Linked DNA regions of Homo sapiens: region 2 is linked to region 1. The links come from fine-mapping of genetic effects on gene expression. Tissue or cell type: CD4 T cells. Region 1 holds a variant in brackets; the other region holds the start of a gene. All regions are shown on one strand. Distances are between the middles of the regions.

Region 1 (5,232 bases):
TTCAGGGCTCCTGGCAGCGCAGACTCTCTGGGACAGGGATTCCTCCCAAGACCCCTGCCCAGGTAGACCCCCTATGTCCTGGCCTGGGTCAGGGTTGGCTCAGCTGCCTGGAGTGGGTGAGCAGACCAGAAGCATGACCCTGCCCCACCCCCAGCCAGCTGCAGCCCGGGCCTGGGATGCTGGTTCCGCCAGCAGTTAAAGTCCCCCTGGTTGTCTAATTTAATCACAGCTGTGTGCACGGTGACTCTATAAATAATTTTTAGTGCGACATAACCATTATTTCACTAATTGCTTCACGCGCACCCCTGGCCTGTGAGATAAATTAAGGTTTGCTGAGTCAGCACCTTTGGCTGATGCTGCTTTGGGGTTTGGAAGTACAGCCCCAACAACTGGGCTGTTCCCACACCAGCCTCAGCCCAGCACTGAGGGGAGGGCGCCCCTCACGTGAAGTGGCCAAGGGTAGAATGAGTGAGGAGGAATGAGGAAAGGGCTAATAAGGGTGGCCATGTACAGTTGCACAGGTTGTGTCCTGCACCAGGGTGCTTGGCTAAGGGGGCAAGTGGGGGCTGAAATCCAGCCCATACTACACTTTTGCAATCCATGTGCTCTGACATGGGATTTTGTTGGCCCAGAAGAAGGTGGTACCTTCTTTTAATTTGCACAAAGGCTAGGAAGGAATCAGCAGCTCCAGAATGAACTACCACATAGCAGGTTGTCAGGGCCACCTCTCTGAGAGAGGAGGCCAGGCAGAATATCCTTAAGGATCTTCTCATGTTAGCAACAGCATGGAGACCCAGGCTCTAGATCTGATGCTGAGTGACCTGGGCAAGTGACCTTCCCTCCTCTGTGTTTTAATATCTTGACAGTTTGATCCCATCCAGAGCCTGTGTTCTTTCCTCTGCCTATCATACTCCAAATTCAGTAGGTGTGGCTGGAAAAAAAGGTTCACATGGTCAAGTACATTTGAGAAACATCGAGTTAAGTGGTTTCTTTCTGTAGAAATTTTCAGAGAGCCTACAGTGTGTTCAGGAGCAGCAGACTTGCAGGGAGGGGTGGAGATGGTGTAGCTTTTCCCAGTGCATTTGGCTGTGGAATCCTTCATTTTAGGACTCTTATTCATCCTGGGATCCTAGTGTCTATCTCTGGGCTTATTAGTGAGTGGATGTCATCCCCAAGGACAGAGAACGCTCCTATTCCTGGCCATAACTCTAGACTCAAGGCACTTCCCTATCTGTCATCTAGATCTGATGCTGAGTGACCTTGGGCAAGTGATGCAAGATTGCGAGTGGGCAAGATTGCTAGATCTTGCCTTCCTTCTTTGAAGGAAAATCTAGCAAAAATAGGTCTCCCTTCAAATCGGTGAAGTGTGGGGGGAGCATCCTGAGTCCACGGGACTCGAAGTTCCTTGAGGGCAGGTGCTATGTCTACCTTATTTATTGCCAGTTCCCTGGGGCTTAGCTTGGGACCATCTCTTGAGTGAATGAATGAGTGTCTATTTTGAAAAGAGACAGGAAAGGAGATAATTGGCTTCATATCCTGCCCCAAACCTTACTGGCTGGTGACCTTTGAGCAGATTGCTTCTGAGAGTCCAGTGCCACCACAGCTCTGTGTCTCTTTTGTCAAATGTAGATCAAGGACCAGATATGGTGGCTCACGCCTGTAATCCCAGCACTTTGGGAGGCCAAGGCGGGTGAATCACCTGAGGTCAGGAGTTCGAAACTAGCCTGGCCAACATGGTGAAACTCCGTCTCTACTAAAAATACAAAAATTAGCCGGGCATGGTGGTGCACACTTGTAATCCTAGCTCCTTGGGAGGCTGAGGCAGGAGAATCGCTTGAACCCGGGAGACGGAGGTTGCAGTGAGCCAAGATCGCTCCACTGCACTCCAGCCTGAGCAGCAGAGTGAAACTCCGTCTCAAAAAAAAAAAAAAAAAAAAAATTAAACTCTCGGTACTTCAGCCATAAAAAAGGAACGAGATCATGTCCTTTGCAGAGATACGGATGGAACTGAAGGCCATCATCCTTAGCAGACTAACGCAGGACCAGAAAACCAAATACTGCATGTTCTTACTTACAAGTGGGAGCTAAATGATGAGAACACATGGACCCAAAGGGGGAACAACACATACTGGGGCCTGTTGGAGGGTGGAGGGTGGGAGGAGGGACAGGAGCAGGGGAAAATAACTAATAGGTGCTAGGCTTAGTATCTGGGTGACAAAATAATCTGTACAACAAACCCTCAAGACATGGGTTTACCTATACAACAAATCTGCACTTGTAACCCCTGAACTTAAAAGTTAAAAACTCTCCATCCTCTCATTCCTAAAGTGCTGAAGTGAGGCTCAGATGC[A/C]AAGACGGTTGTGAGTGAGTGCTCCTTCCACAGTGTGAAACACTTGACAAATGCAAGGGATTAATCCTATGATCTGTATCCTCCTTGGTTCCCTCTCTGGGCTGGGCTGTGATCACGTATTCCAAGCTGCTGTTGACTGAGTGCTGACCTCGGGTCAGGGCCTGTCCCAGAGGTCTTTCACACATTCTGTGCACACTTGTCCAGTAACCCTCACAGCACTGTGAGAAGAAGGGATTACCTTTGTTTTATGAAAAAGAAAAGTGAGGTTCAGAGAGGTGATGTGGTTTACCTGAGGTCACACAGCTGTAAACTGCAGAGCTTGGGATTTGAATCCAGACATGGTTCCAAAACATGTCTTTTCTCTTCATTCCCAGCTTATTGGCTCCCAGGTTACCACCTTATTCTCCCCCTACTCCGTTTTGGGCAGGGTGTTGAGGCAGGTTATGCAGGGATGCTGGCTTCAGAGGACTACTGGCCTCCTTGTCAAGTCATTTTGCTATTTTCACAAGGACAAGGGCAACCATTTGTTGAGCATCTACCATGCATCTGGCATTGAGCTGGCTGCTTTAGATCTGTTATTTTCCCACATTAAATCCTCACCCAAAATCTATGATGTAGAAAAAACCACTCTCATTTTAGAAAGGGACACTGAGCTGGGCGCGGTGGCTCACACCTGTAATCCCAGTGCTTTGGAAAGCTCAGGTAGGAGGATCACTTGAGTCCAGGAGTTATAGACCGGCCTGGGCAACATAGGGAGACCCTGGCTCTACAAAAAGCTACAAAATTAGGCAGGCCTGGTGGTGCATGCCTGTAGTCCCAGCTACCTGGGAGGCTGAGTGGAAGGATCGCTTAAGCCCTGGAAGTTGAGGCTGCAGTGGGTCAAGATTGCGCCACTGCACTCTAGCATGGGAGACAGAGTGACACCCTGTCTCGAGGAAAAAAAAAAGGAGACCAAGGCTTGGAGTGGTTATGTGACCTGCTCAACCGCATGCAATTAGTAAACAAGCAGCCAAGCTGAAATTCCACCCAAGTGGGTCTGATCCCAGAAGCTGGCTATTTCCCTGGCTTCTCCTTCGTGGCCCTGAATATCCAGCCCCAGTTGGGGAGGGGTGACCTGTGGCTCCTGGGTCCAACACACTGGGTCTGTCTGCAATAGCTGCCGTGGAGACGTCCCCGCGGTGCATCATGACCTCTGGGGCTCTCCTTCCCCAGAGCCCCGTGGGCCCTGCCCTTGGTGCCTGGCACACTATTACTGCCTGGGAAACGCTGAAGAATGATGACAGGGCTGTAAGCCTGGCTTCTCCAAGTTTCTGCTTGACCTCCAAGGGACCAGAGGAGGAGCGGGGAGAGCAGGGAGTGGAGTGGCTGCCGACATCCACAGCTGATGCAGGGACTCGTGTGTGCCTGGGCCTCCCTCTGAAAGCTGCCTTTGGAAGGTGGTCACAGCCAGTCTGCTCACGCCCCCAGTCACGCCACCTATTAGCCTGGCTGCCCTGGGCACAGTGACCTCTCCCAGGCTGGCGTCCCCTCCCAGGGTGAGTCCATCACCACCAGTCACAGCCGAGCTCCTGTGCTTGGCTTTCAAGGCCCCTCGCATCTGCCTCAAGCCTCCCTGTCTTTCCAGCCTCCTCTATTGCTTATTCATTTATTTAAAAAATATTTGTTGATCAACTATGTGCCTGGCAGATGTTCTAGGTCCTGAAAATACAGCAGAGAACAGAACAGATAAAATCTCTGCTCTTCTGGGAAAAATTGACAGAAAGCAAGTTGACGAATAAATGTATGATGTTGGGTAGTGAAAGGGACTTATAAAAAAAAAAAAAAAAGAACCAGACCCTCCCCCTGCCCCAAGGCATCTAGAGATAGAATTCAGGGGGTCAGTGAAGTTAGAGGAGGAAAAAAATTATATTTTTATCTCACTAACCTGTAACTAAAATATCGCATTTTTCTTCAATTATAAATGTTGGCAACATACCACGGTAGTATTAGCAGTGCCTGTGACTTTGTCACCAACAGAAATCAGATATTTCCTATCACATTACAGTTGTTGCATACATTTTGAAACATCATTGACACTCATCACTGCTTCAAAATTGTTGTGGTTAATAGAACTGCCACGAGATCTTGTTATTTAATGCATTAATAAAGAAGTGCATCTAGTACTGTATCACTCATTTGTTTTGTAAATATTTTGAAAACGATTTCTATATAATTGGCTGCCTTGATAAATCTATGTATTTTCGTCTATGCCTTTAAAATCATTATTCTGAGAAGGGCTTCACCAGGGCCAAGGGGTCCATGGCCCCAGATGCATTAACTCCTGGAGTGGAGATGGATGGGGAGGAGGGGCGGGTTTTTAGCTGGAGTGGTCAAGGAAGCCTCTCCGGGGAGGTGGTATTTGATCAGCAACATAAAGTGGGCAAAGGAGCTGCCATGCGAAGATTTGAGTCAAATTCATTGCAGGCAGAGGGAACAGCAAGTCTAAGGGCTCTGGGGTAAGAAGGAACAATGAGGCCAAGGTGGCTGGAACAAAGTGACCAGCGAAGGGAGAAGACAGAGAGGCGCATGGACCACACATGATGTAAGGTCTGGCTTTGGTGAGGACTCGGGATTGTATTCCCAGCAAGGTGGGATGCTACGGAAGGGTTCTGAGTCAGGCGTGATGCATTCAGATTTCTCAATTAGAAGGATCCCTTTGGCTGTGGGGCAGAGAATGGGGCACTGAGTAGTGGGTAGGAGGGGAAGCAGGAAGACCAGGAGCTAGGGGTCTGCAGCATCCAGTGAAAGATCACGTGGCTTGGAGCAGGCTGAGACTGGAGAAGTGGCCCCATTCAGGATGCATCTTGAGACTGGAGCCTGCAGAGCTTATGAGGAACTAAAAG
Region 2 (5,232 bases), 670 kb before region 1:
TGCCCAAGGCCACACAGCCAATAAGTGGTAGAAACAAGATTTGAAAGGAAGTGAATTCAGAGCCAGGTATGCCAGATGGTGAAGCCCACAGCTTTTCCTGGGCCTCAGAGCCACGATACATCTTGGGCTTATTCCCATCACCAAGGCACTCTCTCTAGATACCCTTACAGTGCTAGCAGAGGGGCATAATGGGAAGGGAAATTTCAGGAGCTGAGCTGACTGTGAGAGGCTCTGAGTAAGTCTTGACTGGGTCTAGGAATATTCCCAGAGTTGTTTGGTTGGGATGAGAAAGTGGGAAAGTGGGAGAGAAGCAAAGCCTGTAGATTGTCCTAACATTTTCTTCTCTAGTTCTATTTCCTTGCCTCTTCCCACTTTACAATATACTCTTGGCCTTGTCCTATTCCTGGGACCCCTCATCAATTTATATCATTTACTTCTCTCCGTAGGAAAAAAAAAAGAAAAAGATTTCTTTTCAAGATGTCATTTTTTGCTCTTGTACTAATAAAAGAGCAACTCATGCTTAGTGCATAAATTTTGTAAAAATATGAAAATGACAATTAAATTTAAAAATAATTGTTAATCTTGTCAACCTATGCTAACATTTGTGCATATATTCTAGTAGACTTTTTCTTATGTACATATATATTTTTATATAGTGGATAATCCTGTGACTATTTTTAAGTTTAACATTTACAATAAATATTTTCCTGTACTCCTAAATATTTTCAAAAATTTCATAGATTGGTAGATTACTCTGCCAATTAATCACCAGTTGTTGACAAGCTTGGTGGTTTCAGTTTTTCCCTATTGTAGAAATTCACTATTAGTTACATAATGATAACTAAATCCTTGAGTATTTATTTATTTATTCCTTGGGAAAGCCAATAAAAGTAGAAATACAGATAATTCAATCTGTGCATAAATATTACCAATTCTCTCTTCATAATGTTTAGGCTATACTTGCACCAACAAAGAAATGGTCTGAAAATGTCAGACCATTTCCTTCATCTTGACCCTGATATAGACATTCAGAGGATTCAGATGGTAGGTCGGAGGAGCCAGCAGGCTATTGACTATTCACAGTTGTCTAGTGTCACAATCACAGGCCTTACACTCATCCGATGTAAACTTAAAACCCATCTTTACAGAGGCAGATACTAAAAAATTAAAATTAAAATTAAAAAACCATCTTTATCATTTGCTAACTCCATGACCTTGGGTAACTCATTTCACTTCTGGAAAACTCCATTAAATCACATGGAAAAATTATAGCACAGGCATACCTCATAGATATTACAGATTCAGTTCCAGGCCACCCTAATAAAGTGAGTCAAACAAATATTTTGGTTTCTCAGTGCATATAAAAGATATGTTTACACTATACTGTGATCTACTAAGTGTGTGACAGCATTATGTATAAAAACAGTGTACATATCTTAATCCAAAAATAGTTTATTGATAGACATCAATACCAAGAGCTCTCAAAACCACACACTTACATGTGCTTGTTAGTACATGCTCCTGTTCCTGAATGACTTTTTGGTAAACAACAAAATTAAGACAGAAATCAAGAAGTTTTTTGAAACTAATAAGAACAAAGATACAACATACCAAAATCTCTGGGACACAATTAAACCAGTGTTGAGAGGAAAGTTTATAGCACTAAATGCCCACATCAAAAAGTTAGAAATATCTCCAATTAACCTAACATCACACCTAGAGGAACTTGAAAAACAAGAGCAAACCAACCCCAAAGCTAGTAGAAGAAAAGAAATAACCAAAATTAGAGCTGAACTGAACAAAATGGAGATAAGGGAAACCATACAAAAGATCCATGAAACCAAAAGTTGGTTCTTTGTAGAATAAATAAGACTGGTAGACCACTAGTTAGACTACTAAAGAAAGAGAAAATCCAGATAAACACAATCAAAAATAACAAAGGGGATATTACCACTGACCCCATAAAAATACAAACAAAAATCAGAGACTATTACAAACACCACTATGCACACAAACTAGAAAACCTACACAAAATTGATAACCTCTTGGAATCATACAAACTCCCAAGATTAAACCAGGATGAAATTGAACAGACCAATAACAAGTACCAAAATTTAATCAGTAATTAAAAAAAAACTTACCAACCAGAAAAGGCCCTGGACCAGATGGATTCACAGCCAAATTCTACCAGACATATAAAGAAGAGCTGGTGCCAATCCTACTGAAATTATTCCAAAAACTTGAGGAGGAGGGACTCCTCCCTAATTCATTCTATGAAGTCAGCATCATTCTGACATCAAAACCTGGCAGAGAGACAACAGAAAAAGAAAACTTCAGACCAATATCACTGATGAACATAGATGCAAAAATCCTAAACAAAATACTAGCAAACCAAATCCAGCAGTATATCAAAAAGCTAATCCACCACATTGTTTCCTGTTGGGAGCTCCCTGCAATACCCACCCCCCCTCCCCCCTGCCCCGCAAAAAAATGAATTCACCACAATCAAGTAGGCTTTATCCCTGGGAAGCAAGATTGATTCAACATATGCAAATCAATACATGTGATTCATCACATAAACCAAACTTTAAAAAAAGATCATCTTAATAGATGCAGAAGAGGCTTTTGATAAAATTTAACATCTTTTCATGTTAAAAACCCTCAACAAACCAGACATCAAAGGTACATACCACAAAATAGTAACAGTCAACTCTGACAATCCCACAGCCAACATCATAATGAATTGACAAAAGCTGGAAGCGTTCCTCTTGAGAAGCGGAACAAGACAAGGATGCCCACTCTTGCCACTCCTACTCAATATAGTATTGAAGTCCTAGCCAGAGCAATCATGCATGAGAAAGAAATAAAAGTCATCTAAATAGGAAGAGAGGAAGTCAAACTATGTTTGACAGACAATATTCACAGACAATATAAGCCTAGAAAACCCTGTAGTCTCTGCCCAAAGCTTCTAGATCTGATAAACCACTTCAGCAAAGGTTCAAGATACAAAATCAATGTACAAAAATCAGCATTTCTAGCAGCATTTCAATCGTATGAAATGCATAGAAATATGTCCAAGCTGAGAGTCAAATCAAGAATGCAATCCCACTCACAATAGCCACAATAAGAATAAAATACCTAGGAATACAGCTAAACAGGGAGGTGAAAGAGCTTTACAATGAGAATTATAAAACACTGTATCAGAGACAACACAAACAAACAGAAAAACATTCTATGCTCATGGATAGGAAGGGTCAATATTGTTAAAATAGTCATACTGCCCAAAACAATTTACGGATTCAATGTTATTCCTATATACAAACTACCAACATTTTTCACAGAATCAGAAAAAGCCATTTGAAAATGCATTTGGAAGCAAAAAGGGCCTGGATAGCCAAAACAATTCTAAGCAAAAAGACCAAAGCTGGAGGCATTATACTTCCAGACTTCAAACTATACTACAAGCCTACAGTAACCAAAACAGCATGGTACTGGTACAAAATGAGAATCATTAACAAATGAAACAGAATAGAGAACCCAGAAATAAAGCTACACACCTACAACTGTCTGATCTTCAATGAAGCTGACAAAAACAATCAATGGGAAAAGGACTTCCTATTCAATAAATGCTACTGGCATAACTGGCTAACCATATGCAGAAGAATGAAACTGGACCCCCACTTTTTACCACATACAAAAATCAATACAAGATGGATTAAAGACTTAAATGTAAAATCTAAAGCTATAAAGACCCTAGAAGAAAATCTAGAAAATACCATTCTGGACATTGGCCCAGGCAAAGACTTCATGATAAAAACTCTACAAGCAATTGCAACCAAAACAAAAATTGACAAGTGGGACCTAATTAAACTAAAGAGCTTCTACACTGGAAAAGAAACTATCAACAGAGTAAAAGACAACCTACAGAATGGGAACAAATATTTGCAAACTATGCATCCAACAAAGATCTAATATCCAGAATCTATAAAGAACTTAAATCAACAAGCAAAAAACAAAAAAAAATTTTAATGGGTAAAGGACATGAACAGACCCTTCTCAAAAGAAGACATAATGTGGCCAAAAAGCATATGATAAAAATGCTCAGTATCACTAATCATTAGGGAAATGCAATTCAAAACCACAATGAGATATTATCTCACACCAGTCAGAATGGCTGGTGAGGGAGAAAAGGGAATGCTTGTGCAGAGCTGGTGGTGTAAATTATTTCAGCCACTGTGAAAAGCAGTCTGGAGATTTCTCAGAGAACTTAAAATAGAACTACCATTTGACCCAGCAATTCCATTACTAAGTATATATCCAAGAGAATAGAAATTGTTCTACCATAAAGACATATGCCTGCGTATGTTCATCACAGCACTGTTCACAATAGCAAAGACATGGAATCAACCTAGGGTGCCCATCAATGGTGGACTCGATAAAGAACATGTGGTATGTATACACCATGAAATACTACCTATTTTTAAAAATGAGATCATGGCCTTTGCAGCAACATGGATGGAGCTGGAGGCCATTATCCTAAGCAAATTAAGCAGGAACAGAAAACCAAATACCACACATTCTCACATAAGTGTGAGCTAACCATTGAGTACACACGGGCACAAAGAAGGGAACACTAGACACTGGGACCTATTTTAGGGTGGAAGTTGGTATGAGAGTCGGATTGAAAAACTACCTATCATGGATTATGCTTATTACCTGGATGGCAAAATTATCTGTACACCAAACTCCCACAACACACAATTTATCCATCTAACAAACCTGCACATGTACTCCTTGAACCTAAAAGTTGGCAAGGCAAAAAAAAAGAAGAAAAATACTTTATTGCTCAAAATGTTAACATCATCTGAACCTTCAGCAAGTCAAAATCTTCTTGTTAGTGGAAGGCCTTGCCTCAGTGTTGATGGCTGCTGACTCATCAGGGTGGTGGCTGCTGAAAGTTAGGGTAGCTGCAGAAATTTCTTAAAATAAGACAATGAAGTTTGCCACATTGATTGATTGCCCTTCACAAACAATTGTGCAGTAGCATGCAATGTTGTTTGATAGCATTTTGCCCACAGTAGAACTTCTTTCAAAATTAGAGTCAATCCTCTCAAATCCTCTCATAAGGATTTGATAAAGTTGATAAAGTTGATAAAGTTGATAGCTTTATCAACTAAGTTTATGTGACATTCTAAATCATTTGTTGTCATTTCAACAATTCATTTTCTTCCT

Direction of the effects. Positions count from the first base shown, and alleles are read on the strand shown. Sizes are in standard deviations (SD) of each study's normalised expression.
As copies of A replace C in region 1, the expression in CD4 T cells of the gene that starts at base 2,203 in region 2 goes down (moderate effect, 0.67 SD a copy in CEDAR).

The links. PIP is the estimated chance that this variant, and not a neighbour inherited with it, causes the effect. A credible set is the group of variants that fine-mapping cannot tell apart.
Region 2: it holds the start of WFDC11, and the variant in region 1 is the best candidate, but not a certain one, in a credible set for the expression of WFDC11 in CD4 T cells (CEDAR, PIP 0.64).

The regions. Positions count from the first base shown.
Region 1 is chr20:46,334,303-46,339,534 of GRCh38, forward strand. No RefSeq gene overlaps it. Among named protein-coding and RNA genes, the nearest start is that of SLC35H1, 28 kb to the right of the region's middle. RefSeq lists an enhancer at 3,221-3,722. The variant A/C (reference allele first, on the strand shown) is at 2,351.
Region 2 is chr20:45,668,037-45,673,268 of GRCh38, forward strand. WFDC11 (WAP four-disulfide core domain 11) reads right to left here and starts at 2,203. Exons shown (of 5, transcript NM_147197.2): 1 at 2,142-2,203.